2 separate regions of the Homo sapiens genome follow, and region 2 is linked to region 1. Evidence: fine-mapped expression QTL. A gene starts in region 1. The other region holds a variant in brackets. All regions are shown on one strand. Distances are between the middles of the regions.

Region 1 (4,376 bases):
CTTAGTCTCCTGAGTAGCTGGGATTACAGGCGCCTGCCACCGTGCCAGGCTAATTTTTGTATTTTTAGAAGAGACGGGGTTTCATCATGTTGGCCGGGCTGGTCTTCAACTCCTGACCTCAGGTGATCCGCCCGCCTCGGCCTCCCAAAGTGCTGGGATTACAGGCGTGAGCCACCGCGCCCGGCCCTGAGTTCAGTTTTTTTAAGGACACAATTAGAGGTGCTCACGGGATGTTCAAGCAGGGAGGCTGGTGGATACCTTCGATTCGCTCGTTCACCTACGTGGACTTATTAAACAGCCAGGCTCCCTGGCCTTGGGAGAGTCCTTCTGGTGGGGAGACAGATGATAAATAACTGAAGTAATGGAAAAGGGGCAGTTCAAGAAAAGTGTTGTGGAGGAAGAAAACAAGAAAGCCCGCCAGAAGGGGACTGGAGGTCGGCCCCGAGGGTGTGTCCGCTAGAGGGGGCCTCTCCAGGTGGACTGCGGGTGAGAGTAAAGGGGGCATGTGGGGGAAAAGCATTCTAGGGAACAGCAAGTGCGAGGACCTGGAGACGGCAGAGGGGCTGGTGGGACAGGCGCCCAAGAGGAGGCCCAGGCTGTCCCTCCGGGGCGTGGGGAGAGGCATGGGGCTGGGTCCCTGCAGGAGCTCACAAGCCACAGTGGGGAGCAGAAGCGTTACGCTGAGTACAGTGGGAGCCACTGAAAGGGTTAAAGACCCCTGGGGGTGCTGAGTGGGAAGAGGCTCTGGGAGCTGGAGTGGACGCAGGGAGACCAGTTATAAGGCGAATGCAGGAGTCCAGGCAAAAGAGAATATTCCAGTGTGTATCTTAAGACTTAACTTTTTACACACAGAACACCCTGCGCCCCTCTCAGAGCCTCCGGGGTCTTCATGCGAGCAGTTTATCACGGTTCTTTCGTCTTAAACCCTCTTACTATTTCAGCAAACACCCTCTCCTCAGCCTGGTCAACCCCTCTGCCCAACCCGAGTGGGCCCCGAAGGAACAAGTGGGGACCAGAGTCCTGCTCATGTGAGTGGTGGGGCCCAGCCCGTTCCCCTAAGACCAGAATTCTCTCGCTCAGAGCAAAGCCCCGGGGTGCCGGGATTCTCTCTCTGCTCCCGCTCCCTGGATGGAGCTTTTAAAAAAGGAGGATTCCTCACTGCGGCCTCTGCCCCTTGCACTGAGCGCCAACCCGCATCACAGCTCAGCAAAGGCGCGCGCAGTGAACAGACGGAGGAGGGGTGGCTCCTCGCTGAGCTGAAGGCTGCGGCGACGAAAATAAACAGCATGGTTCCTGCTCTCCACGAACCTGGCGCTGCAGACGTGGGCAAACCACACCAAGAGACGCGAGCAACCGAAATATAGGGAGAAAAAAAAAGGTGCCCTGGACAGCGGGCTAGATGTCTCCTGCAGGCTCGAGGACTTCCCGGAGGGGGCGGCGTTTTCTCGGGGCCTGGGAAGAATGGGCGGGTTTCAGCGGGCGCCTTCTGGGTGACTGCCCGTTTCGGCTTCCCCTGACCCCGTAACAGAGCGGAAGAGGCCCAGAGACGCCAGAGGAGGGGCGTCAGCGGGACACTCAGGCCAATAAGCTCTGACTCCCGCTGTCTGCAAAAATGACCGGATGCAGGAATGTCACCTAGAACCGGCCAGCTTTCCGACCTCTCCGGTCAAGGACGCATTCCTAAGAGACGAAGGGAGAATGACAGAAGTTAAAAACAACCAAACAAAAGCCAGGTTGAGGCCTCTAGGTGGGTCTCCGCTACCGATGGATTCAGCCGGTGGGGCTGCAGGAGGTTCCTATAAGCGTGGTCCCCTCTCCCCGCACCGAGTCCGGCCCCGGCCCTGGGATTTCCCCAGCCGCCGCCCCGCCCCCTCCGCCCCGCCGCCCCCGCCGCCCCGCCGCCCCCTCCGCCCCCGCCGCCCCCTCCGCCCCCGCCGCCCCCTCCGCCCCGCTTGCCCCTGGCGCCGCTGCGACCTTTCCCTTACTTTCCAGGGCCTCAGGCCCCGCCCCTCGCTCCGACCAAAACACGTGCCGCGTCCCGCCCTGCCCGATCACGCCGCGGCCAGGCTCCGATCACGCGGCCCCCCGCGGCGCTCATTGGCCGGCCGGGCACGAATTGGCTGGTGGTGGCCGGCCCCGCCCCGGCAGGGGCGCGGTGTATTTTGGTTCGCCTCCGCGCCCCGCCCCGCCAGCCGCTCCCTCCGCGGCCGCCCCGCCCCTCCCGCGCCGCGAGGGCCGCGCCGGGGCAGAGCCGCGCGGGCGGGCGAGGCGCGTGCCGGCCGCAGGAGCTCCGGGTTGCCGCCGCCGCCGCCGCCCGCAGCCCACGTGCGGCCGCTGCTGCGCCCGAGCTCACGCCCCGCGGCCGCTTTGTTGCTCCCGGCCGGCCTGCACGATGCACACGCCGGACTTCGCAGGCCCAGACGACGCGCGCGCAGTGAGTGGTGGGGCTGCCGCGGCGGGACTACTCGTCTGAGCGAGGGGCGAGGCGGGGGAAGTGGTGCGGCACTCGCGCGCCTGTAAATGCGGGAGGTGGGGCGTGCAGGGCTTCGCTGCGGCCGCGCCGGTAGGGGCCTGGGCGGGCTCCGGAGCCGGGCGGGGCGGCGGCCGCGACGGGCGCGCCCGGGTCGGCGGGGGCGAGGAGGGGGCGTGTTCCCCGCGCAGCTTTGTCTTGCGCTTCCTGGGCGGCCCCGCCCCGCTGGCCCCGCGGCTATTTCCAGCCATGACGTCACCCCGGTCCTGTGAGCCGGACGGCCGTTGGGCGGGGGAGCGGCTGGCGGGAACGCGGCACGCGGCCTTGGGGGCGGGGCAAGAGCTGCTGGCGGGAACGCGGCACGGTTTTGGGGGCGGGGCACGCGGCCGTCGGGCGGGTTAAGAGCGGCTAGCGGTAGTGCCGCTCGGGCCTGGGGGCGGGCAAGGTCTAGGGGCCGGGGCAACGACGGGAGGCGGGAGCGCCGCACTGCCTTGGAGGCGGGGCAACGCTTGGAGGCGGGAACGCGGCACGCGAGCGTTGGGGGCCCTAAGCGTCGCGACCTGGGGGCTTCGGGGAGGTAGCCGTGGACGTGGGCAGAGCGCGGGCCTCGTGGTGTGCGGGCACTGTGGGCCGGGCGAGCCCCTTCCCGCCCGTGTGGTGAGTCGGCCTCGGCGCCCGGTTCTGTGACATCACAGGGGGTTTAGTGGCGCAGCCTGCGGGACAGAGGCCGGGGATTTGAGGTGGCCTCGTCTTGTTTGATCTCGGGGAACCTCGGCAGACGGAAAGCTTTGATGCTTTGGTGCATGGCAGATAGAGAGGAAACGTGTATCTTCGTACATTTAAAGTTTCCTTTCCTTTTTTTTTTTTTTGATAGGGAGTCTCGCTCTATCGCCCAGGCCGGAGTGCAGTGGGCGCGCGATCTCGGCCCACTGTAACCTCCCTGGGAGGGAGGGGTATTACTCTTCTCAGAGTAATATCACCCTCTCGCCCCCGGCTTAGTTTTCTTTTGGAAGAGATCAGCTCATTCCAGCCTCTTCCCTCCTCCCCTCCAGATTAAAGAGACGGTGAGGGTCTGGTGCGGTGGCTCACGTCTGTAATCCCAGCACTCTGGGAGACCGAGGTGGGCGGATCACCTGAGGCCGGGCTTTCGAGACCAGCTTGACCAACATGGGGAAAACCGCTCTCTACTAAAAATACAAAAATCAGCTGAGCATGGTGGTGGGCGCCTGTAATCCCAGCTACTGGGGAGGCTGAGGCAGGAGAGTCGCTTGAACCTGGGAGGCAGAAGTTGTGGTGAGCCGAGATGGTGCCACTGCACTCCAGCCTGGGCAACAGAGCAAGACTCTGTCTCAAAAAAACAAGGCCGGGCGCCTGTAATCCCAGCACTTGGGGAGGTCAAGGCGGGTGGATCGCCTGAGGTCAGGAGTTGGAGACCAGCCTGGCCAACATGGTGAAACCCCGTCTCTACTAAAAATACGAAATTTTCTGGGCGTGGTGGCGGACGCCTCCCAGCTACTCTGGAGGCTGAGGCAGGAGAATCGCTTGAACCCGGGAGGTCAGTTCAAGGCCAGCTTGACCAACATAGCAAAACTCTCTTTCTACTAAAAATACAAAAATTACCCAAGTGTGGTGGCGGGCACTGCAGTGAGCCGAGATTGTGCCACTGCACTCCAGCCTGGGCAACTGAGACTCCATCTCAAAAAGAAAAAAAAAACTGCAAAGAGATCCTCTCCGGGTTCGCGGCAGGTTGGCTTCTTGTCACCACCTGCTAGCCTTGGGACAGTAACAGATGACTTCCACTCCCGAATCTGTGGAGGGAACTGGTGGAATCGCCATGGGCCCTACCTGCGTGGAGTGCTGGAAGCCTAGGCGGAAGGCCCCAGAGTCCCTGAGAGCATCTGTAGGG
Region 2 (4,376 bases), 29 kb after region 1:
GGTCACTGTGAACGCTCAGCAGGTGAGGAGGGGGAGGGCAAGGGTAAGAAGGGATCGCGACAACAGCGTCTTCATGCTCCCGTCTCCTCACCTTCCGGGCCTTGGTGTACTTGGTTCAATGCCAAGGAGCTCCCCAGGGTTCTCCCAGCCTGGCCCAGTACCCTCTGATGGGTGTGGCTTTGCCTTGACCTCTATCGCTGCGGTCCCCGTGCTGAGATGGAGAACCTGTTTTATTTTTATTTTTCACTTTTTTTGAGATGGAGTCTTGCTCTGTCATCCAGGCTGGAGTGCAGTGGCGTGATCTCGGCTCACTGCAACCTCTGCCTCCAGGGTTCAAGTGATTCTCCTGTCTCAGCCTCCAGAGTAGCTGGGATTACAGATGTATGCCACCACACCTGGCTAATTTTTGTATTTTTAGTAGAGGTGGGGTTTTGCCATGTTGGCCAGGCTGGTCTTGAACTCCTGACCTCAAGTGATCCACTCGCTTCAGCCTCCCAAAGTGCTGGGATTACAGGTGTGAGCCACTGCGCCTGGCATATTTATTTATTTATTCGAGACAGGGTCTTGTTCTGTTGCCCAGGCTGGAGTGCGGTGGCCTGATCATAGCTCGCTGCAGCCTCAACTCCTGGGCTCAAGCAACGGTCCCATCTCAGCCTCCTGAGTAACTGAAACTACAGGCACATGCCACCACACAAGGCTAATTCTTGTACTTTTTGTAGAGACGAAGTCTCCCTATGTTGCCCAGGCTGGTCTTGTACTCCTGAGCTCAAGCGATCCCCCCACCTCGGCCTCCTAAAAAGTGCTGGGATTACAGGCATGGTGAGCCACCACGCCCAGCCTGAGAACCCTTTTTGTTTGTTTGTTTGTTTTGTTTTGAGACGGAGTCTCGCTCTGTCATCCAGGCTGGAGTGCAGTGGCGTGATTCGGCTCACTGCAACCTCTGCCTCCCAGGTTCAAGCGATTCTCCTGCCTCAGCCTCCCGAGTAGCTGGGATTACAGGTGCCCGCCACCACGCCCAACTAATTTTTTGTATTTTTAGTAGATACGGGGTTTCACTATGTTGGCCACGCTAGTCTCGAACTTTTGACCTCAGGCCGTCCACCGGCCTCGGCCTCCCAAAGTGCGGGGATTACAGGCGTGAGCCACCGTGCCCGGCTCTGAGAACCTCTTAAAGCTAAGGCAGGACATCCAGCCAAGCCCAGGGCCTGTCAGGGTGGACACTGAGCTGCCTGCTGCTGCCCTTCTGAAAGGGCAGCGGGACCCTTGCGGCAGGGGGCTTGGAATGCCTGGCGTAGGGACCTGACTTTGCACTGCTCACTAACATGAAGACACTGCAGCTTCAGGGCAGCCTTAAGGATGGAATGCCATCCAGTGCGTGAACGGCCCCCCAGAGCGGACGCAGGAGGAAGCAATTTCCCCAATGGCTCAGCCTTGCTGTTTCTGTTGTTTTCACCTGTGTTTTTCTCTGTGCCTGAGATTTTATTGCGTGGCCCTTTATCTGGCCAATTTGTTTAAGCCTTGAACTTACTTTCTCAGATGGAAAAAGCATGAGACTCCCAGAACACACAAGCTTGCTGAAGCAGCCAGGAGGAGCTGGTATGAAAAGCAAAGACACAGCAGCCCCAGATGGTGGCTCCAGCCTCCTGCAGACAGGGGCTCCTCCAGGGGGCTGCCTCCACCTGCAGATCACTGAGACACCTGGACGGACGTGGGGAACCGGCAGCACCTGGGCTGGGGCCCTGGGAACTGAGCTGAGTTCAGGACCAGTGTGTGTGTGCGCCCTGTTTGTATGTGTATGTTTGTGTGCGTGCGAGGGGTGTGTGTCATCCCTTGAGATTCTAGGGGGGCTTTGGAAAGACCAAACCACAGCTAAACAAGAAGCAGAAAACATATGAGAATGAAGCGAATAAGATCATCTCTTAAAGTTTTTGACTCTTAAAACTAAAGTTTTCGTGAAAATTAAAGTTTCAAAGGTTACTTTTTTTTTTTTTGAGACAGAGTTTCGCTCTTGTCGCCCAGGCTGGAGTGCAATGGTGGGATCTCAGCTCACTGCAACCTCTGCTCCTGGGTTCAAGTGATTCCCCTGCCTCAGCCTCCTGAGTAGCTGGGATTACAGGCATCCGCCACCACACCTGGCTAATTTTTGTATTTTTAGTAGAGCTGGGGTTTCACCATGTTGGCCAGGTTGGTCTCGAACTCCTGACCTCAGGTGATCCGCCTGCCTCGGCCTCCCAAAGTGCTGGGATTATAGGCGTGAGCCACCGTGCCCGTGCCCGGCCCAAAGGTTACTT[T/G]TTAGAAAATCCACTGCATATTTACCCAAAATAAAATATACAGTGGATTTCTTCTCCTGAAAGAGTTCTTCCATTAACTCTTAATTTTTAGCAGCTTAATATGTATGTATGTACATACACCAGTTATATGTGTAATTGGCAGAACAATTCCATTCCTTTTATTCCATAGTATGGATACACTTCCCCCTTCCTCTTTCAGAATTATCCTTCTTTGAAGCCCAGGTTTGGTTTGTTTGGCTTTTCGGTTTTCTTAAGGAAACTTGAACATGTACAGTAGAGAAACTCCTACAACGGCTCTCCTGGACCTGACCCAGCTTTCACAATTTTGCTAGTCTCGTTCTGTTGCTCACCACCAGAGGGCACTGTTCTCCCCACACAGAGGCCAAGATCCCAGTGCCCTGGGGAAGCTCCACTGTAGGGCTTTGCAGGCAGCAGAAGCTGAGCAGTGCAGGTGGAGGAGCGGTGGGGGAGCGGTGCAGGCAGGCTGTGAGTCGGAGAGTGGTGCGGGTGGGCTCTGCGTAGGGGGGGATGGCGCAGGTGGGGTCTGCGCGGGGGAGCAGTGCAGATGTGTGGGAGCAGAGCAGATGTGTGGGAGCAGTGCAGATGTGTGGGAGCAGAGCAGATGTGTGGGAGCAGAGCAGATGTGTGGGAGCAGTGCAGGTGGGCTCTGCATGGGGGGGCGGTGCAGGCTGGCTGTGTGGGAGTGGTGCAGATGGGCTCTGGGGGGCAGCGGTGCAGGTGGGCTCTGCGATGAGACCTGTCTTGCATGGCTAACATGACAAGGACGTGACAAGGGGCTCTGGGAACCGCCCCCCCCCCCCCCCCGGCTGTGGGCTGCCAGTCCAGGGCCCGTCTCCACTGGGAAGGCCTTGCCTTGAAGGAGGTGTTTCCAAAGCCACAGGGAAAAAGGCAAGGGAGACCCAGAGAGGCTGTCACTGGACTCAGGGTCTGAGAGACTTGTCCGTGCTAACAGGGTGTGGATTGCGGTTGGCCTGACCTGCAAACAGGCACCCTCCCACTCCTTGCTGGGCCCCAAAGTCCTCCGATGTAAATAAGAAGGTGGGACTGAACCATCTGTGAGGTCCCTTAAGCTCAAGTCATCTCGGATTTCAGCAATAGAAAGAAATGACAGCTGTCTGGCCATATACTATCAAGAAACAGAGCTTGGTGGGAATCGGAATGGGTGGCCTTGGGCAGGGGGCTGCTTTCCCTGCTGGGTAATGGGCTCACGGCATTTAGGGGCAGAAGGGCCTGTGTTGTGCACAAACCACTGCTCTGACCCTCCTTCCCAGAGTCTAGTTAGGGTCTGCCCCAGCCCTATGGGACTCAAAGCTCCAAGGTTAAGAGCTCTTGGTCAGCATCTCTCGAAGAGTGCATGAGCCGACATCCTCCTTTCCACGGCATTTCTACACCCTGCCGTGCCCAGTACTCAGCAGCAGCCACCACAGCCTCTCAGCAGGGCAGGAAATGTGAGGCTGTACCCCTGACCGTGATGCAACCAGGCTTCTAATCACCTACAGCAGCCAGCAGCCAGGGACCATGAAGGGAGAGAGCCTCTGAGGCTGCCCGCTCCTCCCCCGGGTCGAGGCACTGGGCTTCTAACATCTTTTAATCCTACTCTTTTTATAGAACTCCAGAGAGGACAATTCTTCCTTCAGTTTTTGATGTTCATGTTCCAGGCTTGGCATCCTTCCCCACCCATCCACACGCTCTCCCTCAGCAACTGTACTCTGGTATGGCATCAGCCACTATCCAAATGCTGATGTCCACGAAATGACAGCTCCAGCTCCAACCACTTTTCGCAGTTGACAGGAATTTCGGACAGCCCACGGAAATTATCCACCTAGGACTCAAAACTCAACTTGTACAAAACTAGGCCCATCCTGTTAATAGCATTCTGAATCTTCTCAACTACACAAGCAGGGAATCTTGGAGTCTTTCTAGAAACTCACTTTCCCTTGCTTGTCAAACTCAGTGGCTCACCTCACCTCCTCCTCCACCTCTCACCTGGATTCCTCCCTTACCTGGGCTCCTGCCCCCATGCAGTCTCCCCCAGTACAACCTCCCCCGCCACTGTGGATCCTT

Evidence for each region. PIP is the estimated chance that this variant, and not a neighbour inherited with it, causes the effect. A credible set is the group of variants that fine-mapping cannot tell apart.
Region 2: its variant is the best candidate, but not a certain one, in a credible set for the expression of KLF11 in lymphoblastoid cells (GEUVADIS, PIP 0.82).

Annotation. Positions count from the first base shown.
Region 1 is chr2:10,041,325-10,045,700 of GRCh38, forward strand. KLF11 (KLF transcription factor 11) reads left to right here and starts at 2,226. Exons shown (of 4, transcript NM_003597.5): 1 at 2,226-2,434. The coding sequence starts at 2,393. KLF11-DT (KLF11 divergent transcript) reads right to left here and starts at 2,077. Exons shown (of 3, transcript NR_135558.1): 1 at 1,986-2,077; 2 at 1,309-1,680; 3 at 229-327. RefSeq lists a promoter at 1,484-2,383, silencers at 2,070-2,299, 2,590-2,639, 2,760-2,809, 2,850-2,919 and an enhancer at 4,143-4,376.
Region 2 is chr2:10,070,110-10,074,485 of GRCh38, forward strand. The region is part of intron 1 of CYS1 (cystin 1); the gene reads right to left. Among named protein-coding and RNA genes, the nearest start is that of CYS1, 8.1 kb to the right of the region's middle. RefSeq lists an enhancer at 1,181-1,682. The variant T/G (reference allele first, on the strand shown) is at 2,292.